Linked DNA regions of Homo sapiens: regions 2, 3, 4, 5, 6 and 7 are each reported to be linked to region 1. Evidence: microRNA targets listed by miRTarBase, many of them from high-throughput screens and not tested one by one. Region 1 holds a microRNA gene; each other region holds the end of a gene's coding sequence.

Region 1 (4,067 bases):
AAATAAAAGATTAATAATTTAGACATATCAGCTGTAAATTCATAAGAACCATATGGATGTCCAAGTGGAGGTGGAGGAGGTGATTAAGATGGAAAAAGGCAACCATGAATGAAGACACACAGATCCTCAACCTTTAAAACAGTAAGACACAGTTTTTCACTTATATTAGCCCTTAAAAACCATAAGATGCACTGTTGAAATGGTGCATATTCCAAGAACTGTTGATAGAAATCAAATATATTTTGATGGGAAGAATTAACATAGATAACTGTGTATAATTTTCTTTCAGTGTACACTTAAATTACCTAAACAATTAAAGCCTTATTTTCTTATTCTGTTAAGTGTTAGTAGTAAAGTCTACTTACTTAATAGGGCTAGAGCATGAAATAAGAAAACCAGGCATATCATTTTCTTTGTGTAATGCCTACATATTGCAAGTTGCATATTTGGTAGCCACTGTGCTAATTTCCATTTATGACTATGTCTGTATTTTCTAGAAAGTTGTTTTGTAACCTTAATTAAGAAATGCAAAAATGTTCAGACCTTTTGTGCAGCAATTTTACTAGTAGGAAATTATCCTAAGGAAACAATCACTTACACACACACACACACACACTCACATACACACGCACACTCACATGCACACATCTATACCATAAAATTTTATTATGAAATTATTGTAAGTTTATAAAAATATTTACCAATAGAATAATATTAAGTAACTCATGGATTTTTTATTAAAACTAATTTTGGTATTTTTTAAAGGACTAAAGATATTTTGGTACAGATTTCAGGGAAAATAGGATGCTAGCCCTTGAGAACATGCCGATCTTGCTCCTTGGCTAACTACACCATTCACCTTACTTTGGCTAGGGAGGCATTTGCAGAGCTCTCCTTCTGACATTTTTGTCTAGAGGAGGCGTTGTTGTCTCCCTTACTCTCAGAAGCTTCACGTGTGTTAAGGAAACTTTTTAAGTGTCTTTCCTTTTTGAAATGAGCAAGTGGTAGGTATATAGATACTTTATTATTTTTATCTTATTTATTCAAATATTTTATTTTCCTTCTATTCTATCTTTTTTACGATAGGCATGGACATTCTATTACACATTTGGAAAAATACAGAGTGTAATACACTCTATACCCAAGTCTATATGCAAAAGCTGTTTCTATTTTTCTATATTTGCATCACTAGGTATATGTTCTTTTTAAAGTAAATTATAGATACATTGGTACTTCATTCTAAATACTTCAAGCATATATCTCCAAAAATTAATATTCTCAAATTTTGCTGCAGTGCTATTATTACAGCTAAAATAATTGAGACAAATCACATAATATTACAAAATACCCACAAATTCTATATTTGAGCATATTCAGATATTCTAAAAGTGTATTTATAGCTGATTTGCTCACACCTGGAGTCAATCAAGAATCACACATTGTATTTGGTTGTGTTGGTTCTTAAATCTCTATTAATCTACAATAGACCCAACTATATTTTTCTTTACTTTTATGACATAGAAAGTCTATTGCCAGTGGTTGTCCATTTTCAGATTTGTAATATAGAATTGGTTTGTTTTCATTCTCTGAAGCATATTATATCATTACATTACACAACAACTTCCTGACTTTATTCAATAAGTACATACTGAATTATGAGTGTATGTCAGCCAGAGAACGTATAGCTATGACAGAAAAAAAAAAGAAAGATCTGTCTTTCTTTTTGCTCTAAATATTTTTTTCTCTTTCCTTTAGGATGCAACTGACTCACTTAAAATAGCTGTGTGGATATAGAACTTTTATCAACTACTATTTACTAAATTATATTGGTGTGTTTGTCCTCATCTTAGAATAGCATATCAATAGATGCTATAAAAACATAAGAGGTACGTTTGTAAAACATTGAATTCGGTTCCAAATATCTCAAAATTCTTCCCTAAAGAACACTTTTTGATCGAGATTAAGACATAGGAATCTAAGTTCATCAACCAAAGATGGGTGCCTGACTGCTCATCAACTAATTTTATATGACTCAAAGAATAGGAATTCAGAAGATCTGTGTCCAGCTTTGTCATGGGTAAATAAGGAAGGCACCCATAAATCTTATATAAGTCGTAGGAAGAAGTGTGGTTCTTTGCAGTGAACCATTTCCTGGAAGACACAAGACTGGGGGGATTTTTTAACCTTTGCTGTTTTCCAGGAGTACAGGTTTCTGGTAAAATTCAACATTGTCAGGAGCAGCCAGAGTGATAAGATAACTTATACACAAGACAATCCCTAATAACTTATACACAAGATGATCCCTAATGCAAATGGCGCCTGTGTCTGGAAGAAGCAGTGACACCTTCATAAAACTAAACTTTTGCCTTAATAATATGGTGCTTTCCAGTAGAGGCAATAGCAGAGCCCAGGAGAGAAAGTACTGCCCAGAAGCTAAAGTGTAGATCAAACGCATAATGGCTGAGGTAGTAGTTTCTTGAACTTATTTGTGAGCACATGCAAAAAGTCTCCTGAGTTAAAAACCACAACCACAACAACAACAATGACAACAACAACAACAACAGGGAGGACATTTGCAAAAGTACAGAGTCTCTGCAAGCTTCTGAAAACAAGAGCCAGTAAAAAATGTGATGTAGTAATGTTATTACCACACATGTGAATTCGTTTTTACGTAGTTTTGATGACTTGTGGAAGTTTAGGTTACAGTCACATAGAAAAGTATTTACCCCTTACCTGAAGCACCCTGAGTTTGAGATCAAGAAAAAAAAGATACTAAATGTTTCATCTTGGCATGGCTTGAGGCATAATAGTAAGATAGATATAATAGTATCCATTAATGGCAGAATTCCATCATTTTATAGATATGACTGTCTATGTTATGGTATGTTTTGTAATAAACATGTTTTGTTTTAGAAAAGGAAAATGTCAGAAATATTTGAGATGTCTGAAAGAGTGAAGTTTTCCTAGTGCTGTGAGGAGATTACTAAGAAAAAATGGCATGTACTAATTTTATTTGATTAAAATAAGAACTCAATAATAGACGACAAGCTTCAGGCTAGTTTTAGGAACAATAGTTCTTTCTTTGTCTTTGTTTTGTTTAGTTTTGAAGACAGGGTCTCACTCTGTTGCCCAGGCTACAGTGCAGTGGCACAATCGTGGCTCACTGCAGCCCAGCCTTGGCCTCCTAAGCTCAAGTGATCCTCCCAACACAGCCTCCCATGTTGCTGGGACTACAGGCACACATCACTACTCCTGACTGATTTTTTTTCTTTTTTTAATGTTTGTAAAGACAGGGTTTCACCATTTTGCCCAGGCTGATCTAAAACTCCTGAGCTCAAGTGATCCTTCTGCCTCAGCCTCCTAAAATGGTGGGATTATGAATAAGAGTCACCATGCCCAGATGAGACTTAACTTTCTAAGTAAATTAGACATAATTAACAATCAGTAATATAAACATTTTAAGCCTCCATTTGTAACCAGGTCCTTTCAGCATTTTGACAGAAGTTCTGTATCTTCCACTTCAATACTTAAATTTACTTTTCCTCAGGCACCTGCATTCAACATTAATTTTAAAAAGATCCTGTCAAGTACTACTCTTGAGCTTTTGTTTAATTATTCTTATTACAATACCTCCAGAAACTACCATGAAGGAATTTACATAATTGATATTCATACATTGAAAATAAAATAGAGACTTTGCTGAAGTAATTTCTACTGTCTACTGAAAATAGAGTTTTCAGCTATATTACAAGATAAATTAAATTGTGTTGTAAAGGTCTGGGTGCAAAACTATAATTTTACCATTTTTTTTCTGGAAAATATGGGTTCGAGTTTCTAATTCATAAACTTAAATTGTTCTGTGGTGAAATTAAAAAGTTTCTTGAAAAGTACTTGTATGAAAACTAGTTTTTCTCCGTGTCTACTATGTAGTGTTTCTCAAACTTGCTACTATGGATGCGAGAAGGTTTTTGAAAGTATTGCTTTTTTACGTTCCACAAGTTCTCTACTAAAATTTTTATTTTAGTTTTATCTTTCTATTTTGATAATAATTTCACAATAACCTTATA
Region 2 (4,067 bases), not on the chromosome of region 1:
ATTTGAGTAGGGACCAGGCTTTCCCAGAATAGGCTTTTCAAAATGAAACTTGGCTTTTCAAAATGAAACTTATCTTTTCATCCAAATAAGATCTTCTAGACATTTCTTTGAAAATATAAGCATTGTTGAATGATGTATTTTAGACACTGTCCTATAAAAATACACGTTCCCTTTTTTTGAATTGCACATTAACTTTATTATTTAAGAAAAACTAATGCCCATTCTTATTTCTCTCTTTTAGTACTGTCATCTGCATTATAACGGACTGTGATGGGATCACATGAGCAAATTTTCAGCTCTCAAAGGCAAAGGACACTCCTTTCTAATTGCATCACCTTCTCATCAGATTGAAAAAAAAAAAGCACTGAAAACCAATTACTGAAAAAAAATTGACAGCTAGTGTTTTTTACCATCCGTCATTACCCAAAGACTTGGGAACTAAAATGTTCCCCAGGGTGATATGCTGATTTTCATTGTGCACATGGACTGAATCACATAGATTCTCCTCCGTCAGTAACCGTGCGATTATACAAATTATGTCTTCCAAAGTATGGAACACTCCAATCAGAAAAAGGTTATCATTGGTCGTTGAGTTATGGGAAGAACTTAAGCATATACTGTGTAAACAGTGCCATACATTTCTAAAATCCCAAGTGTAGGAAAAATATGCAGACATACAGATATATAGGCCAACTATTAGTAATAATATGAAATATACTTAAAGAGCTTTTAAAACTTTGTATTTTTGTACAAAATATTTGTCTTTTACAATTTTTTTCCTTTTTTTTTTTTTGTCATTTTACCGACATAATACATGGAGCCAAAGAAAACAATAATGGTACTAATAAAAACTCCTAGGGTTTCCTGTCAGATTTAATTCTACCCAGTGGCAAAGAATTTTTTCAATTGTGGCTTTAAAAAAATAATTAAATATACATGTGTATATATATATATATATATATATTTTTTTTTTTTTTTTTTTTTAATGTTTCATTTCCTCAGAGGAACCAATCACTTGGAATGTCTAGAAATATCCTTGCAGATTTTGCCAGTGTCAATCAAGCCTGCACACATGCACAGTGAAGCGGGCTGTGCCTGCCTTGAGCCCATCACCAGCCAACATTCTTGACGTGTGCCTGACCAGACACAGAAGAAATGGGCAACTCAAGACGTGCTTCCACTTCATTTTGGTGGAGTCGGGAGGTGTGGGGGATGGAGAGGCATCTGTTGGGAAGGGCACTGAATCTGGCCTATCTGGAAGGCCCTGTGTCATGGCTGAGCTATGACTGTACTTGGCATCAGATCCCTACAGAGCCAACATTAACTGTCAGGAACGTATGGCGTCACATCAGCCAAAGGCAGAGATGCTAGAAAGATGGGAACCGGCTACGTGTTACCTGGAAAGTTTGTTTTCTTAAGTCATATTCCAAAAACATAACTCCAAGGCATACGCATGATAAAATGCAAGAATAAACTTTTGGCCACTTTGTGGAACTCTTAAAAGAACCTTTCCAGCCGGGCGCAGTGGCTCATGCCTGTAATCCCAGCACTTTGGGAGGCCGAGGCAGGCAGATGACTTGAGGTCAGGAGTTCGAGACCAGCCTGGCCAACGTGGCAAAACCCCATCTCTACTAAAAATAAGAAAATTAGCCGGGTGTAGTGGCACATGCCTGTAATCCCAGCTACTCAGGAGGCTGAGGCAGGAGAATCGCTTGAGCCCAGGAGGCAGAGATTGCAGTGAGCCAAGATCGCACCACTGCACTCCAGCCTCGGTGACAGAGCAAGACTCCATCTCAAAAAAAAAAAAAAAAAAAAAACCTTTCCTCTGAGCCCATCTTCCTTTCGCTCCTTGACTTTCCTTGACTTGCTGTTGGAAAGTCTAATATGAAAAGGGCTGAAACTAGGCATTAAATATAACTGATGCTCAAAGGTAAGATTTCCATCCAACAGATTCCTTCTCCCTCCCAAGGGTCTTCCCAGGCAGTGCTGCTACTTATCCCAAATAAAATGGTAAAAGAATAAAGACAGCCGGGCGCGGTGGCTCACGCCTGTAATCCCAGCACTTTGGGAGGCCGAGGCGGACGGATCACAAGGTCAGGAGATCGAGACCATCCTGGCTAACACGGTGAAACCCCGTCTCTACTAAAAATACAAAAAAAAAATTAGCCGGGCGCGGTGGCGGGCGCCTGTAGTCCCAGCTACTCGGGAGGCTGAGGCAGGAGAATGGCGTGAACCCAGGAAGCGGAGCTTGCAGTGAGCCGAGATCGCGCCACTGCACTCCAGCCTGGGCGACAGAGCGAGACTCATCTCAAAAAGAAAAAAAAAAAAGAATAAAGACAGAGTTTGACTTTCCCACCTGCGAACAAGTGGACTGTACTGCTTTGCCCACAGTCTCCATTCCCCATTCATGCTGTTTTCACAGCCCAGTAATGGCCAACTGCTCAGCACCTGTGTGCCCTGCTGTCAGGCAGGTGGGACCCACAGTCCTCTGGGCCTAAACTGCTGAAGCCTGCACCACAAGGCGGGCACGGCATTCCAACACCTCTTCAGGCTCAACAGCCTTTAGAGGCTACACTGAGTCCTCTTTTTCATGCTCTTCCTGGTTTTCAAGTGTCAATTAAAATTTGTCTTCAGAAGAAACTTGAAAATAAGTATCTGATGCCGTCATCAGGATAGACTAGTATTAGCTTTCGCAGCTGAAGTTATTGCTCTCCCAGCCCTAATAATAACTTACCAAGTGCTTATTATTTATCAGGCACTGGTCCAAGTCCTTCAATCAGATTGTCTCACCTGATCCTCCCAACAGCCCTAGGAAGCAGGTCTTACTACACTCCCCATTTCACAGGGACTGGGGCTTGGGGAGGTGATGCGGTTTCCTGGGTCACTCCATTACTGAGTAGTGAGACAGGATTCAGACGCAAGCTTTGAAAATGTTCTAATTTTCTTTAGAAGGAAGGGCCCTTCTTAATAGCACACTGAATAAAATCAAATGAATAATCACACATTACAAGATGCCTCCTATACGTCTCTATATTTAGCTACTTACATACCAGGTTTCTTTTTTGTTTGTTTTTGTTTTTAAGACAGAGTCTCGCTCTGTCACCCAGGCTGGAGTGCGGTGGCGCGATCTCGGCTCACTGCAATCTCTGCCTCCCAGGTTCAAGCGACTCTCCCGCCTCAGCCTCTGCAGTAGCTTAGGGACTACAGGTGCGTGCCACCATGCCAGGCTAATTTTTGTGTTTTTAGTAGAGACACGGTTTCGCCATTTTGGCCAGGCTGGTCTCAAACTCCTGACCTCAGGTGATCCACCCGCCTTGGCCTCCCAAAGTGCTGGGATTACAGGTGTGAGCCACCGTGCCCGGCCTACACACCAGCTTTCTATTCACCTACACACAACTGATGCTCTTTTGGAGTGGAGAGTTTTAGTAAAATATGATGGGGTCTTCAGGCACCTGAGTTGCTACTTACTACTATGAGAAGATAGAAAATGTTTTTTCCTCTAAACAGCTTTTGAAAGAATGAATGCACAACAAGGCAAAAAATAAAAACTTTCTTTTCCTTTTCTACGATCAATGTTCAACAACTCGTTCCTTCCAATTTGTAACAGAGTTGAAGCTGAAACAGACAAAAAATAGTAATAGCTGCTCCCATTTAAAGAAAAATGCTTGAGGAAACAGCTGTATAAATCAAGAAACAATACCAAGCAGATGACGAAACTGATCTCTTCTTGAGAACGTAAGCATGTTAGCTCATTCGTGACTCAAAGTCATGTAATAATAGTTGACATATACCACTTTTCACATACATTATCGCTTCCAGTCTTCACGCACATCTATTGTTCCTGCTTGAGAAATGAGGAAACTGAGGCTCAGGTTGAAGACTTGCCCATGGCTCACGTATCTGTCACAGTCACTTTCCAAAAAGCAAATCTGATCAGGTTCCCCACTCAGGTCCCCAAATCTGAATCCATCCTACCTCTCACCCTCGGCTTAAAATCTTCCAAACAATCCTGGTTGGGCTCAGGACATACCTGCAGGGGCCGTAAGGCACTTGGTACCTGGTTCCCA
Region 3 (4,067 bases), not on the chromosome of region 1:
TTGGAGAGCCAGTTGAGATACGGGTAGCTAACCTGTGAAATTAAATACAGCTTAAATAAGTAAGGAGGTATTTTATTTTCTCTACCTTTTAGGGTCACAGGAAGCTCAGTTCTACACTCTGCGGACGGCCAAAGCTCTGGCAATGACGGCACTGGATGTTATTTTTAAACCAGAGTTACTGGAAGGAATCAGAGAGGACTTTAAACTGAAACTTCAAGAAGAACAGTTTGTAAATGCAGTAGAATAAAAGACTTAGGGGCCACTTATAAATCAAGAAGACGTGATGATTTTTTTCTTTTAATCTCTTTTAATGAAGGCATGCTTGTTTTTTAATCTTAAAGGAGTAAAATTCTTTTTACCTGATAAGTGAGGACAGGGTGTGGAGAAAACATATTAATTACCTCATATCTAAAGTGAAAATTTTTGCAAATCCGTACTTGATAGGATTATGATATTACAGGAGCTGGTATGTGATGCCATTCTTTCTTTTTTTTTACCCCGCAACCACTCACCTTCACAGTAGTGATACCATTTCTTAACCTGGAGGATACATGGCATCATTTTTATAAAATATGTTAGTAAACCTTTTTGTAAGCCTTAAATGTTATGTGTATTTTTAAAAGCTTAAGAGATTTCAAACCTTATATTCAGAATTGACACCCATGAGAGTGTTTTGTGGTATAGGGTGGTAAACTTGTTCTCTAATCGTATATTAATTCCTCTACCAGATTGTATATTTGAAGCCAGTGTCTTTCCTTTTTTTGTTTTAAGATAGAGCCTCGCTCTGTTGCCCAGGCTGAAGTGTAGTGGCACAATCTCGGCTCACTGCAACCTCTGCCTCCCAGGTTCAAGTGATTCTCCTGCCTCAGCCTACCAAGTAGCTGGGATTACAGGTGTGTGGCACCATGCCCAGCTAATTTTTGTATTTTTAGTAGAGACGGCATTTCACCATGTTGGCCAGGCTGGTCTCGAACTCCTGACCTCAGGTGATGCACCTGCCTCGGCCTCCTAAAGTGCTGGGATTACAGGCATGAGCCACCGCACCCGGCCTGCCAGTGTCTTTTTAATACACATGTGTGTTGGTATTTTTAAATTGTTACAGTATCTAGCATATTGCTTACTCTGAATATTCAGTACTTTTTGAATAAGCAAATATTGCTTCCTTGCTTGGAATCATCAGAGTTTAAAGTAGCTTCGTGGATGGACCATGATCCTAAGATGAGTTTTAATTTTGTGTTTACAGTCATCTCTTGTACAACGTGGAGAAGAAAAGATATACTTACTACTTTGCTTCAGGTACACATAAGAAAACCTCTTTTTTAAAAAAATTTTTATTTTTTTACATAATAGAGACAGGGGCTCGCTGTAGCTTCCAGGCTGGCCTCAAACTCCTGGGCTCAAGCAATCCTCCTGTCTTGGCCTCCCAAAGTGTTGGGATTTCAGGTATGAGACACCACACCTGCCCATTTTTGTTTGGTTTTTTAATGGGCAGGTTCTTGCTCTCCCAGGCTGGAGTGCAGTGGTGTAATCACAGCTCACTGCAGTCTCGAACTCCTGGACTCAAGCAGTCCTCCCACCTCAGCCTCCTAAAGCACTGGGATTACAGGCTTGAGGCACTGCACCTGGCCCTGACCATTTTTTAAAAAGGTTAGGCTTAGTGCAAAGTTTAAAATTATATGATTCTTAAAATACTGAATTAGTTTCTAAACTAAACTAGAGGTATAGGTGGACCTGCTTGAGGTATCTTTGTTTTTATGGAACATTTTTATTACATGCCTTTATAATTTTTCATTGTTCACACCCTGTACTGAAACCTTTTTCTCAAATACCAACTCTTGGCTATGTTAAATTTGTAGACTTTAAAAGATGTTATCTAAATTAATGGTTTAAATATACAAATTGAAAATATTTTCTTTTTAGTGGCAATTTTAAAAGCAGGCCTTAATATGGGACCTGCTTTTAAAGTAAAATATGTGGTACTATGAATTACTAAATTGCTATATACCATGTAATAGTGAGTATAGCTAATATTTAGTATGCCTTTTAAAAATTTTGGACTGCTTTTCGGTTTTAACAAATTCTCCACATGTGAACTACTCAAGAAATTTTCCCTTTTTAATTGCCTCTATAGCACTCATAAGAGCTAGGGCATTAGGATAAACTAGAATATTTTATGTTTATGAATACTTGTATAAACTTAAAAGTGTTTTGATTTCCCACAATTTCCCAAAGGAATGTTTATTTATTAAGAGTTGTGTTGATAATTTAACTGTTACAATTTCAGCAGTTGAATTCAGTGAACACTGGTTGAGGAGTGCCTATTTCTAAGCACTGGGTGTAAGAAGAAAAGACACTTGCAAAGGAAGAGCTAAGATTAACATAATTTCTTTGGTTTTTCTATTGCTTGTTATTATTATGTAAAAACTGGGTGGCAGTTCACAAGGAAGATTGTTGTAACAGAAGAGTGACAACCAATAGTTTTTTGATCATTAAATCAAATTTTGTAAACAGTGGCAGGAGCGTGGACTTAAAACAAGGCTTGCTTATTTGGTTTTGTCAAAGTTTTACGAAAATATATGATATATATTTATACTAAAACTATATAATCCTTAGATTTAGGAAAGCAATCAGTTAATGTCTTTAGCACACTAAAGCAGTATTAAACACAGGTACAAGTTGGAAATTGTAGAAAACTGAAAGAAAACAAGACAAAATGTCTATGGTAGGGAATAAAAGAGTTTAAGATATTATGTAAAATTATGTGTATTTTCTTCTCTTTTACATAAATTGTTTGTGAAAAGTGTGCTCAACTTTTTTACAAGAGTGATATTAACTTGGATTTATTTTTCAATATAATTTGGAGACCCTTTGTTATCCAAATAAAATTGATGAGTTTCTGTGCCTGTAAAAAAAAAAAAAAAAAAAAGAAAAGAAAAGACACTGTTGCATGCCCCAGAAAGCTTGTGGTGGGTGGTAAGTTCTCACGAGATTTATTTATCTGAGCAACATTGGGACTGAGGGAACATCTGAAAGCTACCATCTTGAAAATTTTTGAGGAAGTGTTTCTGAAATATTTAAAAATACTTAAGTCAGTCATTTTGAACAAAAGAAATTGATACAATAAGTTTTTTTTTTTAAGGATGATTGTCTAATTTTGTAATATGTTGTTTTTTAAAAACCTGTCTGATGGTGTTTTATACATTTCTAACTTTTTACCTGAGTTATCTCTTTAGTCTTTTGGAAAATACCCTACACAATACTAACCTTTAAAACTATCAAATTTTTGTTATAAGATAAATGTTATCTTTGTACTAGATAGCAACCCTTTATAAGGTTGTAAGGTATAATAAACTGCTTATTTTTTTACATACTTCATATCAAGCATTTTGCAGTCCAATTATATAGTTGAGGATGGTGTATTTTGATATGTATGAAGTTAATATTTTCAAGTAAGCAATCAGTCTACTACCATCAGATTATAAGCTTTTTTGTAATAATAGGTACATAAAATGTGTATGAAAAATCTACAATAAACATGTTTATCTGATAGCAATTGTCTTGCTTTTTTAATGACCTGAAGATATATGTACGAAGATGAAGCACAATCATCCAAATCCATTGTGATATACTATACTTTTTCTTACGCATCAGTATCATAGATGTTGACTTGCTTTTCCACTATGTGTCAAATATTTTAAAAGAACAATTAAGTTCTTTTGTTTAAAAATGAATGTTTCACTAGTCTCAGAAGCTAAAAAATTGCAGTGCAAATTGTACATGGCAGGAGGTAAATACATATAGTATTGAGTTTCCTTTTTTAAAAAAAGTTTACACATTTAATACAGAGTAATTCCATATAATAACATAAATGCAATGGAACAGGTTTTTGGATCCTGGCTAAAGTATAAGTGCCTCATATGAGAAAAGTCACAAATGTCCATGTTTCTTTGTTTAAACTGGTTTTTAATTTTTATTCTTATTTTTGGAGACAGGTTCTCACTGTCACCCCGGCTGGAGTACAGTCAGTGTTGTGATCATGGCTCACTGAAGCCTCATCTTCTAGGCTC
Region 4 (4,067 bases), not on the chromosome of region 1:
GGCCCTCCACCCCTCTGTCCCCTGTCACCCTGAGGCCTCTGGATTTCCTCTCTGCCCTTCCCAACCTGCCAACTTCACGGGTTTCTGGCTGGGTTCTGGGGATGGCCCCTAGGGGAGACGGGCCAGGCACAAGCGGGGCTGTGTCAAGGTGGGTATGCAGGGGTAGCACAAGTGTGCAGAGCCTGGGGAGGCATGGGCAAAGCATGGCAGGCGGCGGGGCAGGGGATCTTGGAAGGTCACGGGCTGGGGAGCAGTGTGGGCAGCGGCCCAGAGGTGGGAAGGCCGTAGCTTAGCTGGGTGTCCCCTTTCTGTCCTCTGCAGGTGGAGCCCCCTGAGCTGCCCGCTGATCTGCAGCACTGGATCTCCTACAACGAGGCCAGCAGCCAGCTGCTCCGCATGGAGAGTGGGCTCAGTGATGTCACCAAGGACCAGTGACCGCCACCTTCACACCGTCTGCCCTGGCCACCATCCTGGGCCTGGGGGCTGCCCACAGATGGGCAGTCTCAGCCATACTCTGTTCCAGCTGGAGTAGCCTCCTGACCAGCCTGGCCCACCCTGCTCCACCCACTGGGCCCCCCCAGTTATTGATACCCCTCTGTGCTGGGCTCCACGCTAGGCAGAAGGAGGAGTGGCATTGGCATCCTGACCCAGCTCTGCCCTCAAGGTGGGGATGGATGGGCAAAGGAGAGTCCTGCCTGGCCCTACGATGAGGCCACTCATGTGGGCCTAGGTAGGGGAGGATGGTGCCTGGAGCAGAGGGACCCACAAGTGCCTCCCGAGCCTAGATCCTGGCTCGGACCACTGCAAGGGCCGAGGCAGGGCCAGACCAGAGCATCCTGGGTACAGGCCTGGGCTCTCCAGGGCCTGGGCCTGATTCAGGTGCAGTGGGCACTCCTGAAGGGTCAGAGCGGCATCTGCCAGGCAGCCCCTCTGGCTTCCGCTGAGGTGGTTGCAGGCCTGGGGCAGAGCCTGGGTGGTCAGAGGCCGGGGCTAGAGGCAGATGGAAGGGAGGCATTTGCTGACAGAGGACGGGGCACCCGGGCTCCCCACTGCAGTCGGCCTTGCCTCCTCCTCCTCCTCTACCTCCAGTCAGGCTGGACGGGAGGGTAGCCTTGTGGCTGAGAGGGGTCAGACTAGGTGGCACAGGGGCTCCTGGAAAGACAGCAGGCTTCCTGCTGGGCGTTCCCTTGTTGGAGGGAATAGAGTGGGGGTGGGACTCTGCAGGGGTGTCCTTGTCCACTCGCACCCCTCGCCGCCCACCAGGGCCATGCTCTGTGACTTGGGCTGATCCCCACCCTTTCTGGGCCTACAGCACCACAGGCCGCTGTACCCCCTTAGAGCTGCCCCTCTCTGGCCTGGCCGGCAGGCGTCTTCTTAACTCCTCTGTCCTCTATATTCAGCATGTTCCTTGTCAGCTGCTGGGCCGGCCCTGCCTTGCGCTAGCAGAGCCTCTCCTGGCAGCTTCTCAGGTCTCCCTAATGGAGACACCAGGCTACTAGGACACTGGCTGGGGCCACCCCCTCCTGCCTAATGCCTCACCTTACAGCTGGGGAAACTGAGGCCTGGAATGGCCCAGAGTCACCAAGGCAAAGTTGGGGCTGGTCCCAGCCTGAGGCTCCAGCTGATGCCCTCAGCTCCCAGAGAGGGGGTGCCCCATCTAGCTGGGTGCAGGGGTCACTGCTTGTCAGCTCAGGGCCCTGTGCCCGCTTGCCTGTTCCCCTACATCTGTGCCTGCACATCCAGAACTGCCTCCTTGCCGCTGCCTCCAGGAAGCCCACCTTGAGCCAGAGTCAAGGGCTGCAGCACTGCCCGATAGAACACGCCCGCCCTCACTGCTGTTCTTGCCTTACAGCCACCATGGGAAAGCTGCAACCTTTCTGTTTTATTTAAAGAAAGCCCAACATTAAAGGGTTTTCATTGCAAGCGTGCTGGGGAGGGCCTTGTTTCTGAGCTACCACCACCACCATCCATGCAGGGGCGGAGGTGGGACCAGGGAAGCTGGGGCACATTCCCAAGATGGGTGTCTGGCATGGGGGGCTATCCAGGTTTGTTGGGCTCCCGTGAACTTAGGGATCAGGCTGGCAGGGCAGGGCTTGTCCTCATCCCATGGGGCATAGGACTGAGGCCAAGAAGGTGCTGTCCAAAGCCCCCTGGGGAGCCAGCCCTTCCTGCTCCGGCCCTCCTGGTTCCCAGCTCTCGAGGCTTGCAGCCCCATCTACAGATGCCAGCGCCAGGTTCCCGGTTTCCCTCCTTCAGGGATTACCCTGGCGGTCATGCCTCAGACTCTGGGTCTGGCCCTCCAGGCTCCCAGAGCCTCGGGCAGGGTGCTGGTAGCCATTGGGGGCAGAGGTCAATGGACTGGTGGGTGGACAGGAGGCAGAGAGAGCATGGGGGCTGTTCTGCAGGCCCTTCAAAAGGGGTGGGGAGAAGTGGGACCCTCCGGGACATAAAGTTGAGTGAGGCGGGGTGTGGCCACGTCCATGCTGTGACCACCTTCCTGGGAGGGTCCAGAAGGCTCTGAGGGCCAGGGAAGGAGTGGGCAGTTGGAAACAGCTATGAAACCGGCATTTAGTGATGGGGCAGTAGGGCTGGGGAGGGGAAGCAAACTTGCTCAGCAAATCTGGGGTCTGTAGCCAGACTGGTTGGCCAGAAGCCTCTGTGCTTTCTCTGGGGTCCTTGGGGGAGGTGGCTCGTGGGGTCGCCACAGGTGTGTGAGCTGAGTGTTGCCAGACAAGCTTCCCAGTGGGGCTGCAGATGAAGCTGTAGGGATGCCGTCCAGCTGATGGTCCTGACCATCTGCCTGAGCCCTGGAGCAGGGCGGGGGCCACAGGACAGGGTGCCTGGGCCTTGGGAGGGCACCATGTGATGATGCCACTGCGGTCCCTGGCTCAGCAGCTACCTCTGGGTCGTGGAAGGCACATTGGCCTGGATAGGGAGTAGGGCTCAGTGACTGGACTAGGAATGAGTGTATCCAGTGCGCATATGGATGTGCGTGCCTGTGTGCATTTGTGTGTGTGTGTGTGTGTGTGCGCACGTGCACGCAGGCAACGGGCAAGCTTCAAGGTGGTTGAATGGGCAGCACCCGCAAGCCTCTGGGGCTTCTCTCTCCATGCAGAAGCTGAACACCCTGGGCTGTCATAGGCTGGCTCAGAGGAAGGTTTGAGCCAGCAGGGCCCTCTCTTGGTCTTGTTTTTGGAGGACGGGCTGACGACAGGACTGGCCCGGGTCAGGGAATGGGTGGCTGGGATTGGAAGTGAACCAGTGCCTTGTCCTGGCGGAGCCACTGGAGCCCACTCTGCTCCTGTGAGCCTGCCACTCGGAGAAGTTAGAGGGCAGCAACTGCTTCGGCCCGCGTCCTTCCCCCAAGGCCAACAGCTGCAGAATTTCTGCCCCAGCCGCCCCCACCCCCGGAGGTGTCTGCACAGTGTCCAGGTGTCGGGCCCAGGAAGCCCTTGGTGGATGCTGGTGAAGAAGGGACAGGTACAGGGTATGGGAGTGTGTCCGGAGGTCCTGGGGTGGTGGCTGTGCATGGGTCCGTCGTCCTGGGGGAGGAGGCACTGTGCCCTCTGATGGCCAGGTGGACAGAGTCACGACTGCTTTGGTGGGTGTCCCCGGGGCTCACCCTAGGTCAGTTGCCTGCTCAGTCTCAGCATCCAGCCACCGCCTCTGGGCTCAGTCAGCTGACTGGCCACTGTTGTGTCCCCTCAGGGCCCAGGGACACAGATCCCCACATCTGAGGCCTTGCTGAGTGGAGTTCTACTGTGCCTGGTGTCCGGAATTCTGGGACAGCAGGACCATCGCCCACCTCATGGATAGGGAAACAGACTAGGGCAGGGAATTCCCAGTATGGCCGCCAGGGGCTCAACGAGGCAGGCCAAAGGGGCTGATTCGTCCCAGGCCCAGGCCGCCGCTCCCCGCATGACTTCCCCTCTGGACACCTGCGAGTTGGGGGCACCCTTGGGGAGGTGGAGGGTCTTGCTCCTGAGGGCGGGGAGGGACGCCCTGCGGTCTGCACACCCCTCTCCTTTAGAGATTTCTTAAAGCTGCGGAAGACTAGCGCTGGCTGG
Region 5 (4,067 bases), not on the chromosome of region 1:
GTAGGAAGGCAAGCGTGGAAGCAGAAAGACCCTCTGAGGCAACCACTTCAGCAGTGCAGAGGACAGCGGTAGGAGGGGCGGAGGGAAGTAGGCAGGTGCCAGAACCACGGTAAAGGAAGAGTTCCATGAGAATGCTTACACAGCAGTGGCAATCGAGGGCTGCATCCGCAAGGGCAGATGACACAGCACAGTGGTTCCCAACGCTCACAAGAAGCACCCTGGTTTCCCGCCTTCCTCTGTTCCTATTGGCACCATAATCTCTGTATAATCTGGGCCAAACGTGTTACCTCTCTGGGTCCCACAGATGAGATACTGTGCCCTGCCTCGAAGGCTGCCCGTGCGAAGCTCTTGCCATCTTTAAAGCATGCAGGCTGCCTGGCACCCGGGGCTAAACAAAGGCCACTGCTCTCCTTCACCGCGCAGCCCCCAGGCCTGCAGCTCCATGCCCCTCAGGTTGGGTGCAATGCCCCTGGTGCAGATTCTGCTCCCCGGGCCCTCTCTCAAACACCTGAGCAGGCTTGTGTCTCCCAGGGGAGGTCGTCCCCCGCTACTCGGGAGGGTTACGGAAACCAGTGCTTCCGCTTCCCCGCCGCCCGCGGGACAGGTGTCTCCTGGCCGAGCTCGTGCGGGGCCCTGGGAGGCTCTCAGTACACGGGAACCGTGGGTCCCGCCCGCCTTCCCGCACCAGGCCCCAAGCCCCAAGCCCCAAGCTCTCGGGGCCCCGTTCATCCGCCTCTCCTTGGCCCCACGCCTCCTCCTTGGGCCGGGGCCTGGTGAGAACCACGAGGGCCGCGCGGCAGCCTCACCCCTCTCGAAGTCCATCTCCTCCAGCGTCTGCTGTACGCCGAGCACCGCGCTGGGATGCGAGCAGCAGGGCCCGTCCGCGCAGGGCCGAGGCGTCGCCATCCCGGCCCCGGCGTCAGTCGATCCGCCCCGGGTCTCAGGCTCAGCCTCGGCGGGAGGGGCGGACGCAGGGCCCGCCCCGCGTCCCTGATCTGGCCGCTCGGCGTCCGCGGCTGTCGCCCTAGTCCCGCCTTCTCGCCAAAGCTGACCAATCAAACGCCTAGGCCTTAGCTCGAGAACCAATTGCAACGGTAGGGCGGGGCTTGTTGCGCCCGGCCGTGCCCCGAGGCCTCCGCGCGAGGGCGTCCAAGGCCAAGCGAGGACTGAGGCGCTGGGTTCCGGGAGCCGCGCGCCGCTGGAGGGCCGCCGGGCCGCCTGGCCTTGCAGGGTGTGGGGATGAGGCAGCTGGGTCCGGTCGGGAGCTTTCCCGTTACCTTCGCCATGACCCAGCCGTCCAGCGACCTCGCAGCCTCCTCTCTTTACCGCCCCTAGTCCCTAGGGCAGGGAGGCGCCACGCGCTCCGCGGTCTTTTTTTTTTTTTTTTTTTTTTTTGAGACGGAGTCTCGCTGTCACCCAGACTTGTGTGCAGTGGCGCGATCTCGGCTCACTGCAACCTCCGCCTCCCGGGTTCAAGCGATTCTCCTGCGTCAGACTCCTGAGTAGCTGGGACTACAGGCGCCCGCCACCACGCCCGGCTAATTTTTTGTATTTTTTAGTAGAGACGGGGTTTCGCCAGGATGGTCTCGATCTCTTGACCTCGTGATCCGCTCACCTTGGCCTCCCAAAGTGCTGGGATTACAGGCGTGAGCCATCGGGCCGGGGCGCGCTCCACGGTTTTTAGCCCCTCTTCCTGGCACCACCCCGGACCAAGGCCGACCGCCCCCGGGGCAGCGGCAAAGTGACGGCTGGAAAGGCCTCGAGACGCCCCTCCCCGTACCCTGCTCTTCCTTACAAGTCCAGCAAGGGGCAGGTGGCCACAACTTGTCCTGCCTGTAGCTCCACCTCAGGGCAGGGGCAGGGCCTTGGTTTGTGCAGAACCCCCTGGCCCCACAGTGGGCGCTGAGTTTACGGAATCGGTCTTCATGATCAAAACCCACCGGGAGGCCGTCTGCGGACCGCGCACCTTCGCAGCGTGCTCCTCAGCGGACCCCAGCCTTCTCAATTCCCAGTTAAAACCCAGGCAGCTGCCTGCTCAAGCCACGATCAAGTGTACAGGGGAGACCGCCTGATCGGCTTAGAAAGAGTGCATGAACGACAGAATGCAGGTTGGGTTCTGTGCCAGTCCCTCTCCAGGACAGTGGTCTGGTGCACACTGGATGTAAGTTCCTTCCCCCGCTAGTTGGGGCACGGAAGACCCTAGCATTCCTGGTGGGTAGAAGGCTGGAAGTCGTTTCTCCTCCCCTAAGCAGGTTGAGAACCCCATCCTCACACAAGCAATGATCTCATCTCCACAACCTTCCACTCCTTTGGCCCCTCATTCCCACTACCCGTCTTGAGTTCTGGGAAGGCACCCCCCCCACCACTCCGCTTCTCCCCTGGACTCCCAGTGCCCTGACTTCTCCTTCTGGCCAGAAGCCAAGGCTGGCTCCCAAGGGGCTATGGCCATGGTCTCGTTCCCAGCCCCGCAGCCACCACTGTGGGAAAACACTAGAGCTGGGCTGTCCCCTCCCACAGGCAGGCAGGGACCACAAAAGTGGTGGCTGCCCTGGGATTGTGGGGGAGGCCCAGTCCAGCCTCCCTCCACCCAGAGAGCCTTCCCTCTTGGTACCCAGAAAGGCTTTAGCCCAAACATCTTAGCCCCATCAGAGCAATCGTTTCATTTTCTCCATTTTATTTGTCAATATAAAAATACTCAAATATTTACAACAAATAAATACGCGGGGACACAATAAGTTACACTGTTAGGAGCCCTCCTCCTAGGGCTGGAAGAGAGTATGCCATTGTCCACAGCAGGCCCACCCTCTCCCTTCTCTCCCCTCACACAGCCTTTCCCAGCCCTGTACAGGAAGAAGGCAAGTATAAAATACCACTGAACCCCGGGGCCAAGTGGGAGGCCCCACCCACCCTTCCCCCCAAACACACAGGAGGCTCCATCTCCCTCCCCCCACCCTGAAAACATTCACAGCCCTAGGAGCAGGACTAGGCCCACCCCAAGCCCTGCACTCCCTCTGAAGGGGCACAGCACCCTGTCCACCCCACCTCCATATGTACATCGCTGCCCGACACTCGGGGCAGTGGGGGTAGGAGAGACAAAGTGATACGACCCCTTCCCCTTCATAGCTCCAATGACTCACCAGGAGGACCCAGGCCAAGGGAAGACTTGACAGAAACAGGAAGGCTATGCCACAAGCGCGCACGCGCGTGCACACACACATACACACACACACAAACACATGTGCAAATACAGACAAACACACATCTTGAAACTTCTGCCTTGAAAAGTTTTGGCGGCTGGGGTCCCGCGTGTCTGTGATTCACAGAGAGGAGGAAGATGCCTTCTGCGAGGCTGGTGCCCTGGTGAGCCACACCAAGTGGCAGTGCCCGTGCTGAGCAGAGCAGGTCCTCATGGCCGGGTGGGTGCTGGGCAGTATCTGTCCCAGACAGAGCAGGTGCCCGTGCCATGTCCCTGAGGTAGCTGGTGCCTGTGCAAAAGTAGGAGCTACACCTCCCACGCTTCCCGCCGACGCGGTGGGGGTTCCCCTCATACTGATGACTCCTCGGGGTTGGAGTCGGGCAGTGGCTGGCGTTGCTGCAGTTTGCGTCTCAGTTCATCCGCGAGCTCAGGCAGGGGGTGCCCGAGCCCTCCCCGGTCCTCCCCTCCTAGTTGTAAGCGCACGTAACCATTGGCATTTGAGTTCCGCCCACCCCCCAGGTGAAGCCGAGTTGGAGAAGGCAGAGGCTGGCCTGGGATGCCTGGAGGTGGCGAAGGGGGCCCCCCACCGGGCTGGCACCGGGCATGCCCAGGTACTATCTTAAGGGAGCCATCTGAATAGTAGTAACCGACAGGATCCCAAAGTTTCTCATCTGGTTCAGGACAGGGCCGGAAGGGGGGACTGGTGGGCTCCTTGGGCAGCTCCAGGGGGTACACCAAGGTCCTCTCAGTAGCCTTGGCCCCTTTCTCCAGCTCTTCCCGCAGCCGCCGGCGCAATGACAGCACCAGCAGCAGCAGCACCAGGCACACAGCCCCCAGGGCCACCACCGCCAGCCACACCAGCCCCAGGTTT
Region 6 (4,067 bases), not on the chromosome of region 1:
CTACTAAAAATACAAAAATTAGCCAGGTGCAGTGGCAGCCGTCTGTAGTCCCAGCTACTTGTGAGGCTGAAGCAGGAGAATCACTTGAACCTGGGAGGTGGAGGATGCAGTGAGCCGAGATCACGCCCCTGTACTCCAGTGTGGGCAACACAGTGAGACCCTGTCTCAAAAAAAAAAAAAAAAACTTTGATCAAACACCACCTTTCCCTTCCATGCCAATATTATATAATGACTGAACGCACCTCTCCCGCTCCCGGCTTTTTTATAAGTGGGCTGAGCTTTTCTCCTTATATTTTACTTTTTATCAAAAACATTTAACTCTAAATTTGCTTGAATTTAATATTGGTTTTAAATATCTCCAGAAAAGATTACAGTAGCATAAACAGAAGCAAGGTTGCCTTCTTTCACAGTCCCTAACTCTCATCCTTGTAGGGTCATCAAGACTCCTGAGATAGCAAACTTGGCCTTGCTTGGCTTTGGAGATATCTTTGCCCTGCTGTTTGACAACCGCTACCTGTACATCATGGACTTGCGGACAGAGAGCCTGATTAGTCGCTGGCCTCTGCCAGAGTACAGGAAATCAAAGAGAGGCTCAAGCTTCCTGGCAGGCGAAGCATCCTGGCTGAATGGACTGGATGGGCACAATGACACGGGCTTGGTCTTTGCCACCAGCATGCCTGACCACAGTATTCACCTGGTGTTGTGGAAGGAGCACGGCTGACACCATGAGCCACCACCGCTGACTGACTTTGGGTGCCGGGGCTGCGGGTTTTGGGTGCAACCTCTGCGGCAGCCGACTGCATGAACCAAAGTTCTCACCTAATGGTATCATCACGCAGTGCACAATCATTTATCTATGTTTTGCCAGGGGCCAGGGCTCGGGGTGGGGGAGGGCTTGTTTTATTGACATACAACGCAGCATGCTAATGGGGTACACCATTGACTTCATTTGTACTTAGTTATGTTGGTCAGTGTTAGAGGATGCATTTTGGGTTCATCTTTCTTGAGTGGAGTATTGGTTTTAAGTAAAGAAAGTTAAATGATCCATTAATCTGCTAATTGGTTGCCTATGAAATCACATTGTCTGTTATTAAAGCTTTTTACCATAGCCTTTTTTTCTTTTGAAGTTGAAGCAAAGGTGCTATGATGTTGTTACAGCAACTTTCCTCACACGGGGTTTAGCTCTTATAAGAGCCAGTGTTAAAACTTCCACCAAATACCAGTTTATAAACTTCCACCAAATACCAGTGCTAAGGAAAGTCTGTCTTCCAGTTCAAATCCAATTCTGTAAATTGAATGTTAGCAACTCATTCTAAACCTTATATCTTGGCAGAGTCAAGGTTGGCCATGTTTAAGATGTGAGCGAGTTCTGTAGTTTTTGTTGCCATGTCGGGGAAGCTAGTCCCCGGCAGCCTGGATGACTGCACAGCGGTGCCCTGGTATAGCAGAAAAGAGCAGTGAGCTGGAAGGTTAGAGACCGGGCCTCTTACCCTGGAACTCTGCACCCTCTCTGGGTCCCAGCTTCCTTGTCTGTACAGCCAGGTATGAAGCTCAGTGATTTCTAAGATTCTTTCTGGTCCTTCACCTACTGAAATGTGTAAAAGTTGATCATGTATTTTTGTCTGATCCCTGATTCATGGTTTCTTTCAGGTCGGATAATATTTAAATGAAATGACTGTTACAGAGTTTTCTATAAGAACATCAATTATATGAAAAGGATGAATAAAAGGGAAATGTAGAAAATATAGCTGATTCCACTTAGACAGTTTAAGTAATTGGTTGAAGAAATGCTGATAGAAGCCATGGTTTAAATAGGGACACAGTATGCTATACTAGAAGGATACCTGAACCCAACCTAACTTCCTCCTTTGCCTCTAACTTAATCTGCAGCCTCAGGCAAGTTAACTTTCTCTTCTAAGACCATCATTTTCTTCATCTTTTAAGTGAGGGAATTGTCCTAGATGAGGGCTCACAAACCCAAATGCCTAAGGGAGCCGTGCAGGTAACATAAATGAGTAAAACATTCTGGGGAGGATTGTGCTGTCCCCTGGAAAGTTGATCTAATAGGGCAGTTATTCAGCTCTGTTTTGTCATTAGGAGAAGCAAGCCCAGGGTTGGCAGGTCTTCACATTGTTTCAGGAGGAGCTAGAAATCCAGATTTTTATTTGAAATCCTGGATTTTTAAAACGTTACAACTGATTAAAGAAAATTTGAAATAAGGTGAGCCAAACAAAACATGTCCCTGGGTTGCCAGATTGTGTCCTCCTCCCTCTCTAAAGTTAGGTAATTTTGTGATTCAGCAGTGGAAATGTTAGTGGTCACAATCAGGGAGAGAGTAGAGGGAGCAAGCAGTAGAAAAATCTCAGCCGCTCTTCAGCTGTCTCCCCTTGTATTACAAGGGTGGTGGGGAGGGATGTATTTCATTCACAGACCAATAGGAAGGTAGTTTGAAGATGAACATAAGAATTGGAACCTCAGTGACAGCTTATGTCTGGGAACATGAGTTATTCCTTCTTGCTGACTCCAGTATAAAGCATATCCATTTTACAGGTGAGAAAAAGGGTTGCTGGCAGAGCTGAGAATGATGTGAACTCTAGAGTGGGGACCTATCTCTTGCAGAATCTGCATTAGCATAGAGCCAGACTCTGGACCTCTGAGTGCTGTGAAGTTGATAGAAATTAATGGTGAATTTCAAGGACAGATATCATTAATATCCATGTTGAAACTCTGTGGGGTTTAAGCAAAAGAACAATATCTTCCCCCATCCCACAAAATCTGGGTTTAATCTATCTCACATTGAGTTCTGTGCATCAGCTCTGCTTAGTACTCTAGAAATAGAACCGGAATCACAACTGAATCTATTTTGCAGAAGCCCCAGGAGACTTTGGGCAATGATGATGGTAAATGACTTTTTACTTTATTATTATTTTTTTTTTTTTGAGACAGAGTTTCGCTCTTACTGCGCAGGCTGGAGTGCAATGGCACGATCTTGGCTCACTGCAACCTCCGCCTCCTGGGTTCAAGTGATTCTCCTGCCTCAGCCTCCTAAGTAGCTGGGATTACAAGCATCTGCCATGACACCCAACTAATTTTTATATTTTTAGTAGAGACAGGGTTCCACCATGTTGGCCAGGCTGGTCTTGAACTCCTGACCTCAGGTCATCCACCTGCCTTGGCCTCCCAAAGTGCTGGGATTACAGGCGTGAGCCACCACGCCTGGCCGAGTTTTTACTTTTTATCGAGCCTGAACAGATAACTATTACTGATCTAATGACCATCCCCACCCTACCTCACTTTCAGATCTATCCAATAGCTTCAAAGGGCAAGTAATTATAATCATTTGTGGGAAAAGTTTTATTAAAAAGTGACAAACTTGAAGCTGTATATAGTATGTTCTATTTCAGTTTTTAGTGGTGAATACAGAAGTCATCAAGGTGGTACTTGGTGCCGCTGGAATTTTTTTTTTTTCCTAGGCAGTCTTGCTCTGTCATACAGGCTGGAGTACAGTGGCATCATCATGCAGCTGGATTTTGACAGCAGAACTTCAGGCAGTAATTGGAGTCCTAATGTCAGTTCTTCCTTATGGAGGCCTTTATTTGGCCTGAGATTTTATTCAACTACTTTATAGATGCTGGGTTTATTCATACTATCGCCAGTTTTTATAAAAATGGAAAACTAGCTCATCCTTTTTGCAAAAGAAAGCAAAGTGGGGAGTCAGAATGAGAAGTGGATAGGGGATAACTAAAACTATTCTTTACTCTCCTTTCATTGCCTTTGAGAGCTAGCTCTTGCACACACTGACTTTGGCTTCCTTAGCGCATAGGTAAGGGAATTGCCTTTCCCTCTTTTGTGAATATTCTCATTTCTGAAAAATTCTAAGTCATGAGAAGATAAGCCCTATCCTTTCTTACAAGGATTGGATTTCTTGGGTGACACTGTGGTGTGGTGGAAGCCAGCGGCTTCTTTCAGGTTCATAAAGGCCATCATAACAACTTCAGGCTTCATGGTGTGGACAGGGATCCAGGAGAGCTGAGTGGATGTGTGAAGTTTCTGATAGATTCTGTCAT
Region 7 (4,067 bases), not on the chromosome of region 1:
AAAAAAAAAGGTGAGTTAGGGTAAAGTATCAAAGAACATAGTTTTTAATTTTTTTCATGAATAACTTAAAAGAAGCAGGATGGGAAATGCCTATGGTCCAGTAACAGTAAAATCTTTCCCTTAATTTTCACAACCACTCTGATGTATAAGTCATTCCTGTTTTATAAACAGACTTACAGATTAACTTGCTAAGATTACTGCCAAAATACATTCTGTATATAATAAAAAAGGTTAATAAAACTCTCTTAAATCAAAAATCCAAACATCCTTAGAAAAATGAGCAAGACTATATTTAGCAGGGCAGTTTGGCAGTATCTAGTGAAGTAAAGGATGCAACCACACTTCTAGTTACCTAGATAAACCCAGACATAGAGAAACATGTACAAGGATACTGACTGTATTAGTATTTTAACAGCAAAGAACTGAAACAGCCTAAATATAACTCCGTAGGAGAATGGATAAACGAAGGTTTCTACATATGATGGAATACAAAGCTATTATAAGTTATGCCTTAAAAAATAAGTTATGTTTTCAAACCATAATATTTCAGTTTAATAGAGTATAAACTAAAAGATTTAAAAAATGAAAACATTAAATTGAAAAACAGTGTACTAAAAAATTAAAACATGAGCATACTAACTTTAGGATTAGTTATTGATATGGAAAGGTACAAAAGTGTTAATCTGAGATAGTCTGTGACAAAAATGTTGAAAAGGCATAAACAGAATGCTGTGAAAAATGTTTAATCTCACCTAAAATAGTGACAGAAAAGACTAAGGTTTGTTAGGACTCAAGGAAAAAACATTCTCATGTTTCTAGTGGAAGGCCAAAGTATTATATTGGCAGGGGATATCAAGTACAACGTTGTAAAAATGTTAAACGTTCACTCCTTTTTACTTCTAGAAACTTAATAGAGGTACTAAGTATATATAGATGTTCACCAAAATCTTCACCTCACTGTAACCTCAAATTTTGGAAACTTAAATATTCAGTGAAGTATAATTCCATCATAGTTTAGTACAACCATTAAATATCTTGTTTACAAAGAGTATTTAATGAAATAAATTCATTTAAAAAAGGCAGAATGAAAAACGGCGAATACTGTCAATAAGCCTGTCGTCTTATCTGCATTTTTTTGTGCATACATGTTCTACTGATTAACAGTTTTTAATCCTGTGTTATTCTATTTTGTTTTGTGTAAAAGAGGAAAAATTTCAAAAGCTGGAATCTCAAAAAAAATAGTAAAATTTCCTCTTAAAAGGAAATACAGGGCCGGGCACGGTGGCTCACGCCTGTAATCTCAGCATTTTGGGAGGCTGAGGTGGGCAGATCACCTGAGGTCAGGCGTTCGAGAAACGCTGTCTCTACCAAAAATACAAAAAGTAGCCGGGCGTGGTGGTGTGCACCTGTAATCCCAGCTACTCAGGAAGCTGAGGCAGGAGCACTTGAACCTTGGAGGCAGAGGTTGCAGTGAGCCGAGACTGCGCCACTGCACTCCAGTGATAAAACTGTATTTATATACATAACTCCAATGTAGATTCTTTACATTCATGCCACTCAGTGTAGGTCCAGTACTGTCAGCATCAGTGTAGGTGGGCAGTTGTAAGAAATGCAAGTTCTAGGGACTCACCTCAGACCTTCTGAATTAGAATTTGCATTTTAACAAAGTGATTTGCATATATTCAAGCTTGAGAAGCAATGCTTTGATGCCCAATTATTATTCTCCTAGCCCAAACTGCTGCAAATCTTAATATCCACAAAGCTGTTTTCTTATACTGCTGGGATTAATAGACATTATTTTACCTTCTGGGTTCTTACCCCCAGCCATATTTTTAAACTTGAGCAATTCATTTAAACACTTATCTGTAGATTCCTATGAAGTAAAACTATTAACAGCTGCCCAGTATTTTATTCAAATGAAAATAAACCACTGTAAAGTGAATACAAGAACTGAGGTTAAAAAAACAATCATTAATAAACCATAAAAATATGAAACTTCCAAAAACTACCATGAAGAATTAAATGAATAGTACCAGAAACAAAGGATATTATAATAAACTGTTAAATATGAAAGTGAATTACTTCTTCATGTGCATTTTTGTGCACATGACACCTGTTTTCAAAGGGCTTTTTTTCCCCCTGGTATTTCAAAAAACTTAAACATCTTAACCAATCATTGTATTTACTGGAAACATGTACTTATACAGACTTCCTGGACACTCCCAGGTCTAGGAAGCTTAATTAAGGAGGGCACAACTATGTAACAAGGTATTTTAGGAAGCAGCTTCCTGGACTTTGGAGAAGTCAGAAAGTTAGTAAGGGGTGTGTGCCATATACAAAATCTTTTTTAAAAAAGTACTATTAGTTTAAGTTTGCTTCTCATAGGTCAATACTAATGAGTACATTCCCTAACTAAAGTACTAAGAATTTATAAAAGGCAGCACCCTTCAGTTACATTTTAAATGATCCAAAACGTTTTTGGTCACATCTCTTAGATTAACATACATTTTGTACACATGACATTTGATCTGGAAGGCACAAATTAATGTACTGAAGCATGCTTTAATAAAGCCAACAGGGTCTTTAGTTTTTAATTCTCTGAAATTCAGTCCACTGTCTGTTTGCCACCAAGAACTTATATACTGCATTTCCTTCATGTTTTATCTTTAATCTAACAAATGAGAACAAAATATAAAGTCTGTTCTACCTCAGTCCAAACGCCTCTACCACACTGGCTTACTCAATTACATCTGACTTTCTCTTGCATTTCCAATTCCCAATCTTTGCTATACTGCTCTACAGCTGGGTTCAGTTAGAGCAATAACATCAAGAGTTAATCCAAATCAGTTGGTAGTACTTTAAGTTATCCCCATAAACATTGCAGATTTTTTAAAAACTGTCTAAATATTTGCCAGGTACACAAAAACAAAACTAGTACTTGGGGACTCCATTAGGCCAATGCTCTAAAAAGTAACACATGGCTTGTTACGGCAGTGGGATTTTGTAGTAACTCTCCTATACCCTCTTTATGGTTATTAAATCCTCTACTTAACCTTCTTTATGGTAAAATAGAAACGATTAGCCTTCATGGCTACTAAGTCAGCAAGTTTCATGAATCCTCACTTTCCTTGCAAAACAGAAAAATACTGGAAATGGAGGGCCAAAGGAAAGGGCATGGGATGATCTTTTAAGTGCTGCAAAGAAAGAGAAGACTAGTTATTCCTACAGTGTGGGTTTTTGTTTTAAATTTAAGGAAACTTACCTTTGAAAGATTCATTTTACTACAAAAAGGAACAGACTTTCTGGGGTCTGAAGGGATTTGTACTTGAAGATACTCCAGTCAGCAGAGGGTCATGTTGAGCATTCTGCAGACAGAACTGTTTCAAGTCTGCAGCTGCCTGGGAAACCTATACATAACAAAGAGGGGGGGAAGTGCCAGATGGTGAGAACATTTTAATGAAGGTTTTCTCAATCTTTGGAAATATTGTACTTACAATAAAACAGTACTTCTCTTGCTTCAAAAGAAGATACTATATAATAATTGAAGACTTAAGTCAAATAGTGAGCTCTTTTTTTTTTTTTTTTTTTTTTTGAGACGGAGTCTCACTCTGTTGCCAGGCTGGAGTACAGTGGTGCGATCTCGGCTCACTGCAACCTCCGCCTCGGTTCAAGCGATTCTCCTGCCTCAGCCTCCTGAGTAGCTGGGACTACAGGCGCACGTCACCACGCCCAGCTAGTTTTTCTATTTTTAGTAGAGACGGGGTTTCACCGTGTTGGCCAGGATGGTCTCTCTCTCTTGACCTCGTGATCCGCCCACCTCGGCCTCCCAAAGTGCTGAGATTACAGGTGTGAGCCACCACGCCCAGCCTAGTGAGCTCTTAATACTTAAAACTAGTGCTTGCAAATAAGACTGATTTAATTAAGTATGTTTTCTTTTGCTTGGTTACTAGAAGCATCAGATGACTGAGTACAAACAGTAGAATTATGTTGATTTTTGCAAAGCGTAGCACATCTTGCTTATTAATAATAGGCTGTTCAAGTGCAAACCTGAGGGTACTTAACATCTT

Evidence for each region. The annotated mature microRNA hsa-miR-4500 reads UGAGGUAGUAGUUUCUU and lies in region 1 at 2,462-2,478, shown strand. An mRNA with a match to its seed (bases 2 to 7 or 8) in the 3' UTR can be bound and repressed. Matches are read on the target gene's strand: a 7mer-m8 pairs with bases 2 to 8, a 7mer-A1 pairs with bases 2 to 7 and ends in A, and an 8mer does both.
Region 2: miRTarBase lists COLEC12 as a target of hsa-miR-4500. The part of its 3' UTR that is shown has no 7-base or 8-base seed match.
Region 3: miRTarBase lists PM20D2 as a target of hsa-miR-4500. Seed matches in the 3' UTR shown: 7mer-A1 at 399-405.
Region 4: the mRNA of THEM6 is a reported target of hsa-miR-4500. Seed matches in the 3' UTR shown: 7mer-m8 at 1,080-1,086.
Region 5: the mRNA of SEMA4C is a reported target of hsa-miR-4500. Seed matches in the 3' UTR shown: 8mer at 3,471-3,478.
Region 6: the mRNA of FBXW2 is a reported target of hsa-miR-4500. Seed matches in the 3' UTR shown: 8mer at 3,286-3,293.
Region 7: the mRNA of GNG5 is a reported target of hsa-miR-4500. The part of its 3' UTR that is shown has no 7-base or 8-base seed match.

The regions. Positions count from the first base shown.
Region 1 is chr13:87,617,082-87,621,148 of GRCh38, reverse strand. MIR4500 (microRNA 4500) reads left to right here and starts at 2,409; the gene lies at 2,409-2,484. All of the region lies in intron 1 of LOC124900338 (formin-like protein 5), which reads left to right. The region is part of intron 1 of MIR4500HG (MIR4500 host gene); the gene reads left to right.
Region 2 is chr18:316,239-320,305 of GRCh38, reverse strand. It overlaps COLEC12 (collectin subfamily member 12), which reads left to right. Exons shown (of 10, transcript NM_130386.3): 10 at 242-3,569. The coding sequence ends at 261. Among named protein-coding and RNA genes, the nearest start is that of THOC1, 50 kb to the right of the region's middle.
Region 3 is chr6:89,162,017-89,166,083 of GRCh38, forward strand. It overlaps PM20D2 (peptidase M20 domain containing 2), which reads left to right. Exons shown (of 7, transcript NM_001010853.3): 7 at 93-3,549. The coding sequence ends at 247. Among named protein-coding and RNA genes, the nearest start is that of PM20D2, 18 kb to the left of the region's middle.
Region 4 is chr8:142,735,005-142,739,071 of GRCh38, forward strand. THEM6 (thioesterase superfamily member 6) reads left to right here. Exons shown (of 2, transcript NM_016647.3): 2 at 322-1,923. The coding sequence ends at 435. Among named protein-coding and RNA genes, the nearest start is that of SLURP1, 5.4 kb to the right of the region's middle. RefSeq lists an enhancer at 3,385-3,951.
Region 5 is chr2:96,857,082-96,861,148 of GRCh38, forward strand. It overlaps SEMA4C (semaphorin 4C), which reads right to left. Exons shown (of 15, transcript NM_017789.5): 15 at 2,637-4,067. The coding sequence ends at 3,545. It overlaps ANKRD39 (ankyrin repeat domain 39), which reads right to left and starts at 935. Exons shown (of 4, transcript NM_016466.6): 1 at 807-935. The coding sequence starts at 906. RefSeq lists silencers at 596-765, 796-1,465.
Region 6 is chr9:120,761,213-120,765,279 of GRCh38, reverse strand. It overlaps FBXW2 (F-box and WD repeat domain containing 2), which reads left to right. Exons shown (of 8, transcript NM_012164.4): 8 at 433-4,067. The coding sequence ends at 721. Among named protein-coding and RNA genes, the nearest start is that of FBXW2, 30 kb to the left of the region's middle.
Region 7 is chr1:84,498,564-84,502,630 of GRCh38, forward strand. It overlaps GNG5 (G protein subunit gamma 5), which reads right to left. Exons shown (of 4, transcript NM_005274.3): 3 at 3,263-3,407. The coding sequence ends at 3,282. Among named protein-coding and RNA genes, the nearest start is that of SPATA1, 5.8 kb to the right of the region's middle.